Linked DNA regions of Homo sapiens: region 2 is linked to region 1. The links come from fine-mapping of genetic effects on gene expression. A gene starts in region 1. The other region holds a variant in brackets. All regions are shown on one strand. Distances are from middle to middle.

What was found.
Region 2: its variant is fine-mapped to the expression of TBC1D10B in whole blood (TOPMed, PIP above 0.99).

Annotation. Positions count from the first base shown.
Region 1 is chr16:30,367,364-30,375,682 of GRCh38, forward strand. TBC1D10B (TBC1 domain family member 10B) reads right to left here and starts at 3,131. Exons shown (of 9, transcript NM_015527.4): 1 at 1,865-3,131. The coding sequence starts at 2,820. MYL11 (myosin light chain 11) reads left to right here and starts at 7,439. Exons shown (of 7, transcript NM_013292.5): 1 at 7,439-7,497. The coding sequence starts at 7,495. RefSeq lists silencers at 2,557-2,636, 2,727-3,016.
Region 2 is chr16:30,399,554-30,407,872 of GRCh38, forward strand. It overlaps ZNF48 (zinc finger protein 48), which reads left to right. Exons shown (of 3, transcript NM_001214909.2): 3 at 1-555. It overlaps ZNF771 (zinc finger protein 771), which reads left to right and starts at 8,053. Exons shown (of 3, transcript NM_001142305.2): 1 at 8,053-8,111. RefSeq lists silencers at 7,777-7,956, 7,979-8,188. The variant T/C (reference allele first, on the strand shown) is at 3,098.

The DNA of each region.
Region 1 (8,319 bases):
TCATTAATTTCTATCATAAGTCGGTTACAAACTCTACCAAGGGCTGGGAAGAGTAAGATACCTTCTGGCCCTCAAGAAGGTTACAGCCTAAGAGGAGCGATAACTGTAATACAGCATGGGAAATGCAATGACAAAGATGCACCAAAGACACATCTAATTGGAGTGGGGGCAGTGGGTATCAGGGAAGCTTCCTGGAGGAGGGGACATCTGAGGTAAGCCATGAAGAAATGAGTAGAACTTAGCAGGCAAAGAAAGGGGAGAAGAGCACCCTTGGCAGGTGCACAGCCTGAATATGAAGGGGAAAGGACTACAACTAGTTCAGCAGGACCACAGCGCAAAGCACCCGGTGAGGAATGGTGGCAAAGGTGACCAGAGAGGCTATGCGCAGGCCAAAGAGCCTGAACTTCATCCTGTGGACAGCAGCGAGCCACTGAACGCTGCGAAAGTAACATGGATTACAGTCAGTCTTGCCCAAGAGGTAGAGTTCTCTGGCATTGAAGCTGATCTTACAGGGACAAAGCTACAAAGCAAAGAAACAGCACCCGGCATAGTGCCTGGCACACAAGAGGGACTCCCCCAAACTAAGTTCAGCCCGAGTTCCTCAGGACAGCCTGCTATTGAGGAGAGAGCCACTGGTCACACAGATCCAGATTATTTGAGGGGGACAATTCACTCAACTGCACTAATTGTTTCTTCATCTATAAACCGAGTCCTTGTGCCTAGAAAGCACCAGGGTCAAACCTCAGTTGCTTTCCCATGTAAGACCCTGAATGTTGGTACCCAATCAAAGGCTTTCTGATTTTGGTTGGCTCATGAACCCTGCCTGGAAAACTCTCCCACAGGGCTTCCCCCGATCCCTGCACACATAGCCAAGACTAAATCAATCCTACTTACTCTCCACGATTCAGAGCAGGTTCAGCTGACTCCCTGCTCTAGGTGCCTCAGGAAACCCTCTGGAGATCTCTAGGCTAAACCCGAGGTCTTCTATTGAAACCAACTGTTTAAGTACTTTTCTTTCTCTCCAGATGATTGGCTCCTTGAAAGGACTATTTTATCCTTAGCACCTGGGGCCTGACACCTGGGGGCCCAGGAGATGCTGTAGGCTGACTGGCCCAGCAGGTCAAAGGGGCACAGGAACAACGGGCAGGATCCAGAGAGGGGGAAGGAAGAAGTCAGAGGCAATCACCCCCTACCTCGGGAGTGACTCAGGCCCCGGAGAGAACTAGGAAAGAGTCAGCCCGGCTGGGGAGATGAGGAAATGGGGAAGAGGCCTCTCCCACCCTTTACTTCAGTGCAGATACAAGACTGCCCTGTTTCACAGCGGGATCCTGACTGCACAGTCTCCCTTCCATCAGCCAGACTTCCCCACCTCTCTACTCCATCCCTGGGACCTAGGGCTATGGGGGAAGGGAGATGCCTGCACCCCTCCCAGGCTATCCACCCTAAGGGACCAAGGGTCTCTACCAGAACCCTCGCCCAACCAACCCTCCAGAATATCCGGCCTGTAGCTGGAGTTCCCCATCAAAGAGCAGGGATGACCTCAGGTATCATCTCATTCAATCCACTTTATAGAGGAAAAAACTGAGGCACGGAAATGGGGAAGCCACTAGCTCAAGGGCACACAACCCATCAAAGGCAAGGCTTAAACCCAGACCTCTTGACCCCTGGTCTGAAACTCCACTAACATGCCAATGTCACAGGCACCTCAGGATGCTCAAGACACGGCAGCTCGCGCTGATCACCCCGTGGATCCTCAGAGGAGGCTGGGCTGCCAGAGTCTGGGCAAAGTGTATCGTTTTCGTTTCGCCCTCCCCCAACCTTTGCTTCCCCGAGGCGGTCCCGCTGGGTGCCCACTGGTACTCACAGGCTGCCCGAGTACTGGCTGCCCCCAAGGAAGCCATACTTGTCCGTCTTGCGCAGGGCCAGCCCGTTTATCTCTGAATCTGAGCCCATGGAGCTCACATCATCCGCCAAGGACTCCAAGGTCCCAGACATGAGGCTCACGGAGTCCAAGTAACTCAGCGTGTCCGGGGCCTGCCCTCGAGGCCCAGAGATGCCAGGTCCCAGGCTGGACGTGGAGCCCAGGTCTTGAGAGTTTTCAGCAGGCTCCGGAGCTGGGGTCACGGTCACGACAGCTACCGGAGCCTCACAAGTCCCAGAGGGGCCTGTGCCAGGGCCTGAGGGGTCCTCAGGAGCCTGTCCTGCTGATGCTGATGTTGCTGCGGCAGCTCCATGCCCACCTGTCACTTGTCCTGATGCACTCCGTGCAGTCACTCCTGAGGCCACTGTGGTTCCCGGCTTGGGGGCAAGCGGGGGTTTGGCGGTCAGGGCACCAGGAGCCGTTCTGGAAGGGGTCCTGGTAGGGGTCCCGGTGGGGGTCCCTGGTCCTGGGGCGGGTGAGGGTCGAGCCTCCTCTGTCTTCGGCGAGTCTGCCCCTGCGGCCAGAGCCCTCGATGTCTCAACTCCAGCCACTGCCGCGGGCTCTGGGGATTCCGGGCCGGAGGGGAGCTGCGGCTTTGGGGCTTCGGGCGAGGCCTCCAGGGTCAGCACCACCACCGTGCTGCCCGTGACAGCCGGGGCTGGGGCCGGGGCTGGGGCCGGGGCCGGAGCAGAGGTCTCGGCCGACCCCGGGACCCAGGCGGGCCGCGCCTCCCCGGGGGCCACCAGGGTGACGGGGGCCGAAGTGGCCGTAGTCACTGGAGGTCCCGGAGCCACCACCACGACGGGCCCGGCCCGGGAACCCCGGGGCGGCGGCGAGGGGGCCGCGGGGGCGCCATGACGGCGCGGCGGGGCCACCAGGGGCGCCGTGCCCGTCTCCATGGCCGCGGGCCGCCCCTCACATCCCCCCGCCGGGGAGGCCGCAGAAGGCGCCGCCCCTCGGGCCTCCCGGCGAGGCCAGCCGAGAAAGGGGAGAGGGCGAAGGGCGCGGCTCGGCGCGCGCCGGGGGCGGAGCGGCCGCTGGGCGCGCAGAGGCGGGGCAGGGGTCGGGGGGCGCCGCGCGCCGGGGTCTCTCTCGAGCCCTCTCACCCCCTCGCGCGCTCTCGCCACCGCCCCCTCCCTCCTGCTTGGGGGCGAGCCGCCGACCTCGCGCCTGCGCACACGCCGCAGAGCCGGCTCCGCGCCAGCGTCTCGGCGTTCCACGCCTGCGCGCGGACTGGCTCATCGCGCTCCTTTTTTCTCCCGCCTAGTCAGAGGATTTGGACGAATAGTGGGAGAGAGAGAACTGGGCTTCTGCCAATCGTTGGAATCGTGGGCGGGGCTGGAGGCGAAAAAGGGGTGGGTCATCTGGAAAGAGGAAACGGAGAAAGCTAGGGCTGTAAGACCAATCAGAGGACGAGGAAAGGCAGGGGGCGATGGGACGAAAGAAATAACCAATAGAAACGCAGGGGTCTGAACCTCCTGGCCAATGAATATGACTGAAGGGTGAATGACCGCGGAAGGGCGGAGGAGGAGGCAGGGCTGTGCGAGTAAGAGGTGGGGCCTGGAGGCTTCTTAACCAATAGGAATGGTAAAAAGGGAGCCAATGAAAAGGGGAGCAGGTGGAGGTCAAATTGACAGGCAGTGATGTCTATTTAGGCGGTGACAGACAGCATCCGCAGTCAATAGGAAGAGCTGAAGAATTCTTTAGGTCTCCCAAAATGGTCAGTAAGGAATGACAGCTGGGAGGAGGCGGGGCAAGCTAGAGATTAATTCGCCCCGTCAGCCAATGATCGTGTTCTCCCACTTTGGCCACAGGACAGGAAAATAGATAGCTGTCTCAGCCAATGGGAGCATCCAAAGGGCAAAGATGCTGCCAGCAGGCGGTGCCAGCCCAGGGATAGTCGGTGACAACCGGAGACAAGCCTTATGGGAGGGTGACAGCTGGGGACAGCACGGAGAAGGGGCGGGGGCATTAGTGCAGCCCTCAACCAATGAGTGCCGCGCTGCCCCCTCTCGAGTCCTTTCCGGTCCCCTATTCTTCGTTCAGCTCCTGAGCCCCACACTCTGGTGGTCTGTGGGACCCTGAGCCCCACCACAGATCCAGTGCCCTGACCCAGTACTCTCATCCTTTACTCTATAATTCTCCGATCTCGGCCCCCAACTAACCCCAACACTCCAGGCCCAGGTGGCAATAGCCAGAGCCCCCAGATCCTATAAGCAACCCATATCTCTGCTTCACCCATTTCCTGCGGGAATCCCAACCTCCAAGTCCCTCTCCTCAGTTCCCATCTATCTGAGCTCCTCCCCAGAACCCAGGCTCCAGTTCCTCAGACCTTATCCCTCTGAGTACCCCCTCCATTTCTTCTAGTGGGGATCTCAAACCCCAAATCCATGAATCCCTAATACCATGAACTCCCCATATGTGTGTTACTATTCTTTTGGGGATCCAAGGCCCCAGTCCCGTCAACCCCTCTCCCCTCACTGCCACATCCCTCTGTGCTCCTCATGTTCCACTGAGAATCCCGACCTCAATCTCATGAGCGCTCCAGGTTGTCCTTAGATCACAAGCATAAAGACCTGACGTTATGAGCTCCAACCTTCCAACTTCTAAACGCCCTCTTCTTTCTCTGACCCCCATATTCTGATTTCCATATAGCATCCACCATCCTGGAATTCCAGTGAGACCTAGCTCCCGACTTCTCAGCTCCTCCTTGGTTTCTGAGTCCTCTAAGGTCCCTCACTCCCAACTCAGCCCCATGTCCTGTCAATTCCCACTCAGTGTCTGATCTCCTTCTCCTCACCTTTCCCATCTCCCGTTTGACCCAAGCTTCCTGAGCTCTCCTCCCATTCCCCTTTTTGGAGTCCTCCTCCTCTCCCAGAACCCAGTAATAAGTGGGCTCCTCCCTGGCCTGGACCCCCGTGGTAACCCTATAAGGCGAGGCAGCTGCTGTCTGAGGCAGGGAGGGGCTGGTGTGGGAGGCTAAGGGCAGCTGCTAAGTTTAGGGTGGCTCCTTCTCTCTTCTTAGAGACAACAGGTGGCTGGGGCCTCAGTGCCCAGAAAAGAAAATGTCTTAGAGGTATCGGCATGGGCCTGGAGGAGGGGGGACAGGGCAGGGGGAGGCATCTTCCTCAGGACATCGGGTCCTAGAGGGAGCGGGAGGAGAAGGAGATGGTTGTCCTTGCCAACTTGGGGCTTCCTCAGCCACTATTTTTCCAGACTTCTGCTGCATGGAGGGGACTGGGTCACTGAGGCCCAGAGGGAGAAGAGAGGGTACATCAAAGTCACACAATCAGCCAAGCTGGCTCTTGGCCAGAATAAAGTGAGCTGCCACTGGCTATCAAGGCACCTCACAGAAAGTGACCAGCTGGCTGTCCTTTTAGGGTCTTTTCCTCCCCTCTTGAGTTCCAGCCTCCACACCAGTACCCAGAGAAAATATTCTAGACTCATACTAGATCACATCCTTCTTCTGCATGAAACCTTTCCAAGGTTCCCCAGGGTCTCCGTCCTGTGCCTGGCAAAGGCCCCTCAGGGGCTGGTCACCAGCCCCATCACAATTCTGGCCACCTGAACACTTCTGATCTTCCGCTCTCCAGGCCTTTGCTCAGGCCATGCCCTCCGCCCAGCACATCTGCTCCTCCACCTGCACCTGACTCCCTGGCCCTCGTGAAGCCACTCCCATACTCCTAGACAGGGCTGCTGCGCCCTCCACTTCTGGGCTCCTGACCAGCTCTGGTATGTCAGTTTCTGCATTCATTCCTGTCTCTATTAGTTATAAGGCAAGTTCTGTGGGATGGGAACTACATCTCCCTTTTACAGAGGGGAAACCAAGGCCCAGCACAAAACCTGAGACCACAAAGCATCTTGCCTCAAAAAATCCCTCTTGGCTCGGCGCGGTGGCTCATGCCTGTAATCCCAGCACTTTGAGCACTTTGGGAGGTCGAGACGGGTGGATCATCTGAAGTCGGAATTCAAGACCAGCCTGGCCAACATGGTGAAACGCCATCTCTACTAAAAATACAAAAAATTAGATGCCGGGCACGGTGGCTCACGCCTGTAATCCCAGCACTTTGGGAGGCCGAGGCAGGCAGATCACAAGGTCAGGAGATCGAGATCATCCTGGCTAACGCGGGGAAACCCCGTCTCTACTAAAAATACAAAAAAATTAGGCGGGCGTGGTGACACGCGCCTGTAGTCCCAGCTACTCGGGAGGCTGAAGCAGGAGAATCACTTGAACCCGGGAGGCGGAGGTTACAGTGAGCCAAGATCACGCCACTGCACTCCAGCCCGGATAACAAAACGAGACTTCATCTCAAAAAAAAAAAAAAAAAGTAGCTGGGCATGGTGGCGGGTGCCTGGAATCCCAGCTACTCAGGAGGCTGAGGCAGAAGTATCGCTTGAACCCAGAAGGCGGAGGTTGCAGTAAGCCGAGATCGCACCATTGCACTCCCACCTGGGTGACAAGAGCAAGACTCCATCTCAAAAAAAAAAAAAAAGAAAGAAAAGAAAAAAAAATTCCCCTCTCCTTGAAGGGAGGTAGGAGACCCACCTGATCCCTCAGCTTCCACAGATGGCTCTTTCTCACCACCCTCACACTTACACACACTTGACTATGAACTCCACCATGTGGGGGTGGAGGGATTGTGTCTGCCAAAGTACATCCACAAAGCCCAGCCTAGCACGTGGCACACTGTGTGTGTTCAATACATGTTTACTGGGTTTATTTTATTAATTTAAAATAGAGACGGGGGCCAGGCGCAGTGGCTCACACCTGTAATCCCAGCACTTTGGGAGGCCTAGGTGGATGGATCACCAGGTCAGAAGATTGAGACCACTCTGGCCGACACGGTGAAACCCTGTCTCTACTAAAAATACAGAAAAAAAAAATTAGCCTGGCTTCGTGGCACACCTATAATCCCAGCTACTCGGGAGGCCAAGATAGGAGAATCACTTGAACAGGGGAGGTGGAGGTTGCAGTGAACCGAGATCACACTACTGGCACTCTAGCCTGGGAGACAGAGCGAGACTGTCTAAAAAAAAAAAAAAGGGAGACAGGGGTCTCACTATGTTGCCCAGGCTGGTCCTGAACTCCTGGCCTCAAGCAATCCTCCTGCCTCAGCTTCCCAAAGTGCTGGGATTACAGGTGTGAACCACTGCACCCAGACGTTTACTGGGTTTAAATCTGAGCCCACCCCACTCAGGGGTACAGGATCTGGTTCATTTATCTCCCAGAATGATGCCTTGGGTTGCGTCCCCTCTAAACTCTGGCACATTCCAGCCCCTCTTTGGGAGAAAGAACATCTCTTCTTGCCCAGGCCCTAGTGAGACATGCATCGCAAGACATGCTCCCCCCTTCCTCCCCGCTGGGCTCCAGCTGCTGCCAGCCCTCCAAGAAAGGAGAGGCCCTGAGTTGGGCTATTTTGGTATCTGGGGTGGGCACCCGCAGGGCTAAGGTTACCTTGGTATGTTAAGGGCTCCCTGGGGCAGGACTATATAACCCCAGAGGGACTGCCCCATGCTGACTCCTTGCTTCTTTCCAGCCGGAGCCGCTGCCTTGCCCCCCGGAGACTGAAGACATGGTGAGTGAGAATCCTCCAACCCCTGCCCAGATCCCTTAGACCTCAGGGCAGCCTCACCCTTTGAAAGAAAGTAGCTGGTTCCCAGTCCAACAAAAAGTTAAAAGGATGCTCATCTCTTTCTCGGCATCACTGATGGAAAACAGACTGTGTGATGGCCTAAAGGATCCAATCAATGATAATCCGCCCAGACATTCAACTCACAGGGGCCCAGTCCCTCTCAAAGCCTGATCCATTCATTCCTGTACTCCATCTTCCTAAGGCCCTCTGGCACCAGCCAGGCAATAACTCCCATCCCATTTTACAAATGAGAAAGTAGAGGCTCAGGCCAGGTGCTGTGGTTCACGCCTGTAATCCCAGCACTTTGGGAGGCCAAGGTGGTTGGATCACTTGAAGCCAGGAGTTCGAGACCAGCCTGGCCAACAGGCGAAACCCCGTCTCTACTAAAAATACAAAAATTAACTGGGCGTGGTGGTGCATGCCTGTAATCCCAGCTACTACGGAGGCTGGGGCATAAGAATCGCTTGAACCCGGGAGGCAGAGGTTGCGGTAAGCCGAGATCGCAGCACCGCACTCCAGCCTGGGTGACAGAGCAAGACTCTGTCTCAAAAAAAAAAAAAAAAAGAAAAGAAAAGTAGAGGCTCAAACAGGGCAAATGAGTGGCTGGGGTCACACAGCAAGTCTGAGGCTCAGAGGAGCTAGGCTCAGGACACTGAGAAGATAAGGAAGCTTCCACCCATTGTGGGGGATGGAGAGTTGGAGACCCAGGAGCCACAGACGGGAATTTGGGGAATGCAATCAAAGCAAGCCCCCTCAGCAAAGAGG
Region 2 (8,319 bases), 32 kb after region 1:
CCACTGATGCCTCCCAACCTTGCTCTGGGAGACCAATGCCTGAACCAGGGTTTGTTTACCTTCTGAGCTGCAGAGATGGGGCTTCTGGAATTTAAGGTAACAGGATGAGGCAGGGGTATCTTGATCATCCGGATGGGGCAAATACTGCTGTGTGGCATGGTGGTACCCACCCCTATGGAGGGGCACTCTTGGACAGAGCCCAGACCTTTGTGCCCTGGAGGGAGCCAACCCACCCTGACACGGAGACACTGGCAGAATAGACCAGAGACAGAAGGTGCTCTCATGGTATCCAGCCTGGATGCCAAGCCCAAGTCCTGGTGGATAGCAGAGGCCAGCTGTTTGGGAAAAGGGCAGGATGCTCTGAGGCCTGGCAGCCACATTTCCATGTGTCTTTTTACCAATAAACGGCTTCTCTTCTGAGGCTTGGACAGTGTGTGTGTACACACAGGCATGAAAAAGGTGGAGAGGGGTCTCTGCGCGCAAAACTCAGACTGTAAATTTTGTGTGCTTCCCTTGCTCTCTGAGCCCATTAAATAAAGAGGTTGTCTTGGCGTAGTCAGCGGCTTTCTAGCTCCGACGTCTGGTTCAAAAACGGCCGCCAGCTCCATCAGCCGATGCCCCAGGCCTGAGGTCTGGCTGCCCGCAGGCACCACCTACGCCACAGCATCCAGCGCGACCCTTAAAAGGAAAACCGCGCGGCGCTGCAGAGACAAGGCAGCAAGGAGGAGGAAGAGGGGGCGTGTGGGGGGCGTTGTTGCTATGGCGACGGCTGTCGGCGGGAGGCAGCCCACAGGTCTGGAACCGGCGTGGAAAGCCCGGACGCCGGCGCGCCGCCCACCGGGACCTGGGAAACCCGACACCCGAGACCCTTTTTATGCGTCGGGAAATGAGTCATTCGGCTGCACAGCCCAAAGGGAGGGCAAACGGTGCTCCTTCACCCCCAGAAAAGCCCGCCGGATTTCCCGGCGCCCCGCGGGGCCTGGGAAGCAGGTCTGCAATCCCTAGCGTTTTCACAACCACTGGCCTGATCGGCCAGGGATTAAAGAAAAAAGAAGTCCAGGGCGGTTCTCCCCGCTAAACAATGAAGGCAACGAAGTACAGGGTCGCAAGTTCCCGCCCCCGGCTCTCCCCGATCTCCGTGCGGAAAGAATCCCTGGACGGGTTCTCGCGAGATCGTAAGCACTGGCCTGGCTTCCCTAGAAACCGACCAGGGCTGGCTGCAGTGCGGCTCCTCCCGCTCCGCCCGCCCTTTCCAAATTGATGCGCTCTCAAAACCCTAGAACCCTGCGTTCAGGGCTGGGGCTCTTGATGGCCTGAGCGGAGCCCTTTGGGGCTTCTGGAAGTTCCTTCTTGCTGGTTTTCCTAGCTCCCTTCCCTACCAGTGTGCCCTCCAAGACGACCTGCAGTGAACTTTCTTTTCTTTTTTTTTGAGACGGAGTCTCGCTCTGTCGCCCAGGCTGGAGTGCAGTGGCGCGATCTTGGCTCACTGCAACCTCCGCCTCCCGGGTTCAAGCGATTCTCCTGCCTCAGCCTCCTGAGTAGCTGGGATTACAGGCGCGCTACCAAGCCCGGCTAATTTTTGTATTTTTAGTAGAGACGGAGTTTCACCATGTTTGTCAGGCTGGTCTCGAACTCCGGACTTCGTGATCCGCCCGCCTCAGCCTTCCAAAGTGCTGGGATTACAGGCGTGAGCCACCGCGCCTGGCCACTTTCTTTTCTTGATTTCTTTCTTTTTCTTTTTTCTTTTTTTCTCAAGACAGGGTCTCACTCACTCTGTCGCCCAGGCTGGAGTGCAGTGGCAGGATCTTCGGCTCACTGCAGCCTCCGCTCGGGTTCAAGCGATTCTCCTGCCTCAGCCTCCCTAGTAGCTGGGATTACAGGCGTCCGCCACCGCGCCTGGCTAATTTTTTTATTTTTAGTAGAGACGGGGTTTCACCATGTTGGCCAGGCTGGTCTCAAACTCCTGACCTTAGGTGATCTGCCCGCCTCGGCCTCCCAAAGTGCTAGGATTTATAGGCATGAGCCACCGTGCCTGGCCTGCTTTCTAAAATTACATCTGGCCATGTCACTCCCCCATTGAAACCCCAGTGGATCTCCACATGCTGTCCCCAAAGCCTAACTTTCATTGGCACTCAAGCCCTTCCATTTGTGTAGTTTCAGCCCTGGGCTCCTTAAATGTCGTTTCTTTTACTTGGAATGCTCCTCCACCACTACCCACCCCTTGTTAATCTCCTCTGTCAAAACACCTCAAGCACTACTTCCTCCAAGAAGCCTACTCTGACCCTCGTCTGGGTTAGTTACAATCCCCTTCTCTGAGCAACCCGTCTCTGAGCACCTAACACATGAAGAGCTTCTTGAGGATAGTTACTCACTCAACAGCTGCACCTATTGTGTGCTGCATACTGGGATAGAAAGATAAACAAGACAAAGTCCCTGACCTGTTTTTATGCGGGAGATAGACATTGAACAAATAATTACAAGTGAGGTGAGAAATGTCCAGCAAACCTATGAGCTGGAAAGAATCCTCTGTGATCCAAAGGCCTTTCCAGGCCAGGTGTGGCTCAGGCCTGTCATCCCAGCATTTTGAGAGGTTGAGGCAGGAGGCCAGGAGGCCAGGAGTTCGAGACCAGCCTGGGCAACATAGTGAGACCTCTCTACAAAAAATACAAAAATTAGGTGGAATGCACCTGTAGTCCCAGCAACTCAGGAGGCTGAGGTGGGAGGATCGCTTGGCCCCAGGAAGTTGAGGCTGCAGTGAGCCATGATCATGCCACTGCACTCCATCCTGGGCAAAAGAGCAAGATCTTGTCTCCAAAAAACAAAAACGACCCCCGCCACCACCAGAAAATACTGTAATCCCAGCTACTCGGGAGGCTTGAGGCAGGAGGATCGCTTGTGCCTGGGAAGTCAAGGTTGCGGTGAGCTGTGACTGCACACTGCACTCCAGCCTGGGGGACGGAGTGAGACCCTGTCTCAAAATATATATATATATTTCCACAAACTACTGCCTCCTTGCCAATCTGGCAAAGTCCCACTCATCTTTAGTTTTTGTTTGCTTGTTTTTTTTACAGATGAGCTCTCACTATATTGCCCAGGC[T/C]GGAATACAGTAGCTATTCACAGGCACATAGTGCACTATAGCCTTGAACCCCTGGGCTCCAGCAGTCCTCCTGCCTCAGCCTCCTAAGTAGCTGGGACCATAGGTGTGCGTCACCACACCTGACACCCACTCATCTTTCAAGGTCCTTCACAGTTACCTTCTCAGTGAGACCAGCACGAAATACCTAATACCCCCGAAAGAGTGGTTCACTTACCCCACTCTTCTCCTGCTAGAACACCCTGTTATCCTTTTCTTATATCACTCATACTGTATATTTAGAGATCTATTTTAAATCAGAAGCTTCTTTTTTTTTTTTTTTTGAGACAGAGTCTCACTTTGTCACCCAGGCTGGAGTGCAGCATGCAATATCGGCTCACTGCAGCCTCAACCTCCCAGGTTCAAGTGCTCCTCCTGCCTCAGCCGCACAAGTATCTGGGACTACAGGCACGTGCACTATTATGCTCAGCTAATTTTCTTTTTTTTGGTGATTTTTGTACAGACGGGGTTTCACCACGTTTCCCAGGCTTGTCTCCAACTCCTGAGCTCAAGCAATCCACCTGCCTCAACCTCCCAAGGTGCTAGGATTACAGGTGAGAGCCACCACGCCCAGCCCACAAGCTGCTGCTGCTGCTGCTTCTTCTTCTTCTTCTTCTTCTTCTTCTTCTTCTTCTTCTTCTTCTTCTCCTTTTCTTCTTCTTCCTCTTCCTATTCCTCTTCTTCTTCTTCTTCCTCCTTCTCCGTCTTCTTTTTTTTTTAAGACAGGGTCTTGCTCTGTTGCCCAGGCTGGAGTGCAGTGGCACGATCTCAGCTTACTGCAACCTCCACCTCCTGGGTTCAAGCGATTCTCATGCTTTAGCCTCCCAAATAGCTGGGATTACAGGCGTGTGCCACCATGCCCAGCTAATTTTTGTATTTTTAGTAAAGACAGGGTTTCGCCATGTTGGCCAGACTGGTCTTGAACTCCTGACCTCAAGCGACTACCCACTTTGGACTCCCAAAGTGTTGGTATTACAGGTATGGGCCATTGCTCCTGGCCCCAAAAACTTATTTTTTTTTTTTTTTGAGACAGAGTTTAAGCAATTCTCCTGCCTCAGCCTCCCAAGTAGCTGGGACTATAGACATGCGCTACCACACTAGGCTAATTTTTGTATTTTTAGTAGAGATGGGGTGTTGGCCAGGCTGGTCTCGAACTCCTGACCTCAGGTGATCCACCTGCCTCAGCCTCCCAAAGTGCTGCGATTATAGGTGTGACCACCGCGCATGGCCCAAAAACTTCTTTACTAGACTATGAGATCCTCAAGAACATGAACTAGATCGTATTGCAAGTAGATACCTGTACATGGTTGCAGGGCAAATCGATGGAGCCCTTTACCTTCTTTTTCCAAGTTCCTATTTAAAACAGCAGGAGGCTCCTTCCAGTAGGGACTTTCACTGCCAGAGACAGGCTCCTGGCTGAGTCTCCTCACTGATTCTCTCTTAATCAGAGCGAGATGCTTTGCTTTCGCTAGAGGTTGGGTTCTGGCCAAGTTTACCCTCTGCCTACCTCTCCTCCATCTCCCTTGCTACATTTCCCCTTGTTCACTCCCTTGGATGCTCAGATCCAGCAACACAAGTCTTCTTCCTATTCCTCAAACACACAAGCTTCTGCCTCAAGGCCTCTGCAGTTCAGTCTCAAACACTCTTCTTCCAGATTTTCAAATGGCTAACCCTTTCTCATCATTCAAGGTTCATCTCAAATATTGTATCCAGGCCGGGCGCGGTGGCTCACGCCTATAATCTCAGCAGTTTGGGAGGCCGAAGCAGGTGGATCACTTGAGGTCAGGAGTTCGAGACCAGCCTGGCTCACATAGTGAAACCCCCTTCTCTACTGAAAATACAAAAAATTAGCCAGGCATGGTGGCAGGCACCTGTAATCATAGCTACTCGGGAGGCTGAGGCAGGAGAATTGAACCCGGGAGGCAGAGGTTGCAGTGAGCCAAGATTGCGCCACTGTCCACCAGCCAGGGCGACAGCTGGAGACTCTGTCTCAAACAAACAAACAAAATATTGTATCCAGGCTGGGCATGGTGGCTCATTCCTGTAATCCCAGCACTTTGGGAGGCCAAGGCAGGCAGATCACTTGAGGTCAGGAGTTCAAGACCAGCCTGGCTAACACGGTGAAACCCTGTCTCTACTAAAAATACAAAAAAAATTAGCTGGGCGTGGTGGTGGGCGCCTATAGTCCCAGCTACTTGGGAGGCTGAGGCAGGAGAATGGTGTGAACCTGGGAGGCAGAGCTTGCGGTGAGCCGAGATCGCACCACTGCACTCCAGCCTGGGAGACGGAGCAAGACTCCGCCTCAAAAAAAAAAAAAAATTAGCTGAGTGTATGGCGCGCACCTGTAATCTCAGCTACTCGGGAGGCTGAGGCAGGAGAATCCCTTGAACCCGGGAGGTGGAGGTTGCAGTGAGCTGAGATCATGCCACTGCACTCCAGCCTGGGTGATAGAATGAGACTCCATCTCAAAAAAAAAAAAAAAATTGTATCCTGAGACACCTTCCCTGCCTGCATTAAAGAAGCCCCTGTTACCATAGCTGCTCCCTGTTGGATCATCTTGTCAGATTTGCCCCGTTGCACCTATCATTATCTGATATTATCTTCCTCTTTACATGTGTACATTTGTTTGCACCCTTAGTAGTGTCACAAGAGCCACTATTTTTATCTGTTTTGTTCACTACTACATCCCCCATACCTAGAAGGGTGACGGGTATATAGGACTCAATAAATACCCAGAGAGGCCAGGCGTGGTGGCTCAAGCCTGTAATTCCAGCACTTTGGGAGGCCAAGGTGGGTGGATCACGAGGTCAGGGGTTTGAGACCAGCCTGGCCAAGATGGTGAAACCCCGTCTCTACAAAAAATACAAAAATAGCCCGGTGTGGTGGTGTGTGCCTGTAATCCTAGCTACTTGGGAGGCTGAGGCAGGAGAATCACTTGAACCTGGGAAGCGGAGGTTGCAGTGAGCCTAGACTGTGCTATTGCACTCCAACCTGGGCGACAGAGCAAGACTCCATCTCAAAAAAAAAAAAAAAAAAAAAAAAAAACTCAGAGAATGAATGCAAAGTGGCTTTTGGGGATCCTGTGTGTGAGTATCCAGGCATTTGACCCCTTCTCCCAGCTCTGGGAAAGAGCCAGTTTTATAACTTCATTCCTGAGAGGTAATTTGGTGCAATAGAAGAGCACAAGCTTTGAATCTGCTGCTTGCCAGCTGTGTGACTTTGAGCAAATTACTTAACTTGTCTAAGCTTCCGTTTCTTCTTTTGTCCAATGGAGATATTATTGATCCCAACAGGGCTGTTGTAAAGAGACAACATAGAACTTGTAAGCACTTACTGAATGTTATTTCTGTTTTCCTTCATGATTTCTGAATCTTAGTTGCCCCATTCATAAAATGGGAAAATTAGATATCTGCTTTTTCAAGGGAAGTGGCTGTTTTTCAAAGGAAGTGGCATTTGTTTATTCCACTAAAAAAAAATCTATTTTTATATGAAATATCCCAATTTAATTTTTTTTTTCTTGAGACGGAGTTTCGCTCTTGTTGCCTAGGCTGGAGACCAATGGCATGATCTCGGCTCACTGCAACCACTGCCTCCCCAGTTCAAGCAATTCTCGTGCCTCAGCCTCTCGAGTAGCTGGGATTACAGGCATGCACCACCAAGCTTGGCTAATTTTTGTATTTTTAGTAGAGACGGGGTTTCACCATGTTGGTTAGGCTGGTCTCGAAATCCTGACCTCAAGTGATCCACCGGCCTCCGCCTCCCAAAGTGCTGGGATTACAGGCATGAGCCACCGCGCCCGGCTTTGAAACGATTTTTTTTTTTTTTTTTTTTTTTTTTTTTTGAGACGGAGTCTCGCTCTGTCGCCCAGGCTGGAGCGCAGTGGCGCGATCTCGGCTAACTGCAAGCTCGCCTCCCGGGTTCACGCCATTCTCCTGTCTCAGCCTCCCGAGTAGCTGGCACTACAGGTGCCCGCCACCACGCCCAGCTAATTTTTTGTATTTTGTTTAGTAGAGTCGGGGTTTCACCGTGTTAGCCAGGATGGTCTCTATCTCCTGACCTCGTGATCCGCCCGCCTCGGCCTCCTAAAGTGCTGGGATTACAGGCGTGAGCCGCCGTGCCCGTCCGAAAAGATTTTTTAAAAGTAAAAATACCCTAAGGGCCAAACAAGGTACCCCTGTGGACTGGATTTAGCTTTGGGCTGTTGTTCACCTAGGCTACTGATTGTCAGGGATGCTATGACATCCTTATCGTGTAACTTAGGCAAATCAGTTTACCTCCCTGAACTTCAGTGAGCTCATCTGTAAAATGGATCAGGACCCATCGTTATGCGGATCAAATGAGACCAGGTATGTAAGACGCTGAACAGCGCTGGCGCATGGTAAGCACCCCACGCATGACGCGACAGCGGTAGCTTGGGTGGATGTTGAATTGGTTAGGATGTATTCAAGGATATCCCAGAGGCCAGCGGAATAGGCGAAGCCGAGAAAGATGGAGAAAAGACGGCAGAGGAGATAAAGAGGGAATGGAAGAAGTGAGGAGGCAACAGGGTCCGCCCTCCAGGCGGGGCGCCAGGGAGAGGCCCAGGCCGGGGCGGGAGCGCACGTGGCCTATTTCGGGCGGAGCAGAGGCACTGGGCGCAGCGGAGACCTCCAAGCCGGCCCCAGGAGACGGGCCGCGAGGTTAGGTTGGAACTCGGCGGCAAGGACCTTGAACGCCGGGCTGGGGCGGCTCCAGGTGCTTGGGAGTCGGGGGACTGCGGAGGACGCCAAGTCTGAGCTCGCCGCCCTCTCCGAGCCGTTTGGGCCGGACGCCTGGGTCCTTCGGGCTCCGCCCCAGGGGGTGGGGCTATATGTTCGGACCAATGACCGGCCGTCCCTGCGGTCCCGCCCCCTCCCCGCCCCCGGAGCCGCGGCCTCGCTGAGTGCCCAGCCGCCCGGCGCCCAGGCCTGGGGCACCGCGAGTGCCGAACCTTCGGCTGGTGAGTGCGCACCCCCTCCCCGGGGTTTCCGCCCCGATCCCGCCTCCAGCCCGTGCCCCAGAGCTCCAGGTCGCCGACCCGGGCCCTGGGGAGTGACTCAGCGCAAGGATGGTGGCGACTTGCGGGGGCTGGAGATTCGAACTGTTCAAGGCCTTGAATGCTGGGATGAGTGGGGTGAACGCGAGCCCTCGGAGCTGGTCCCGGGGCT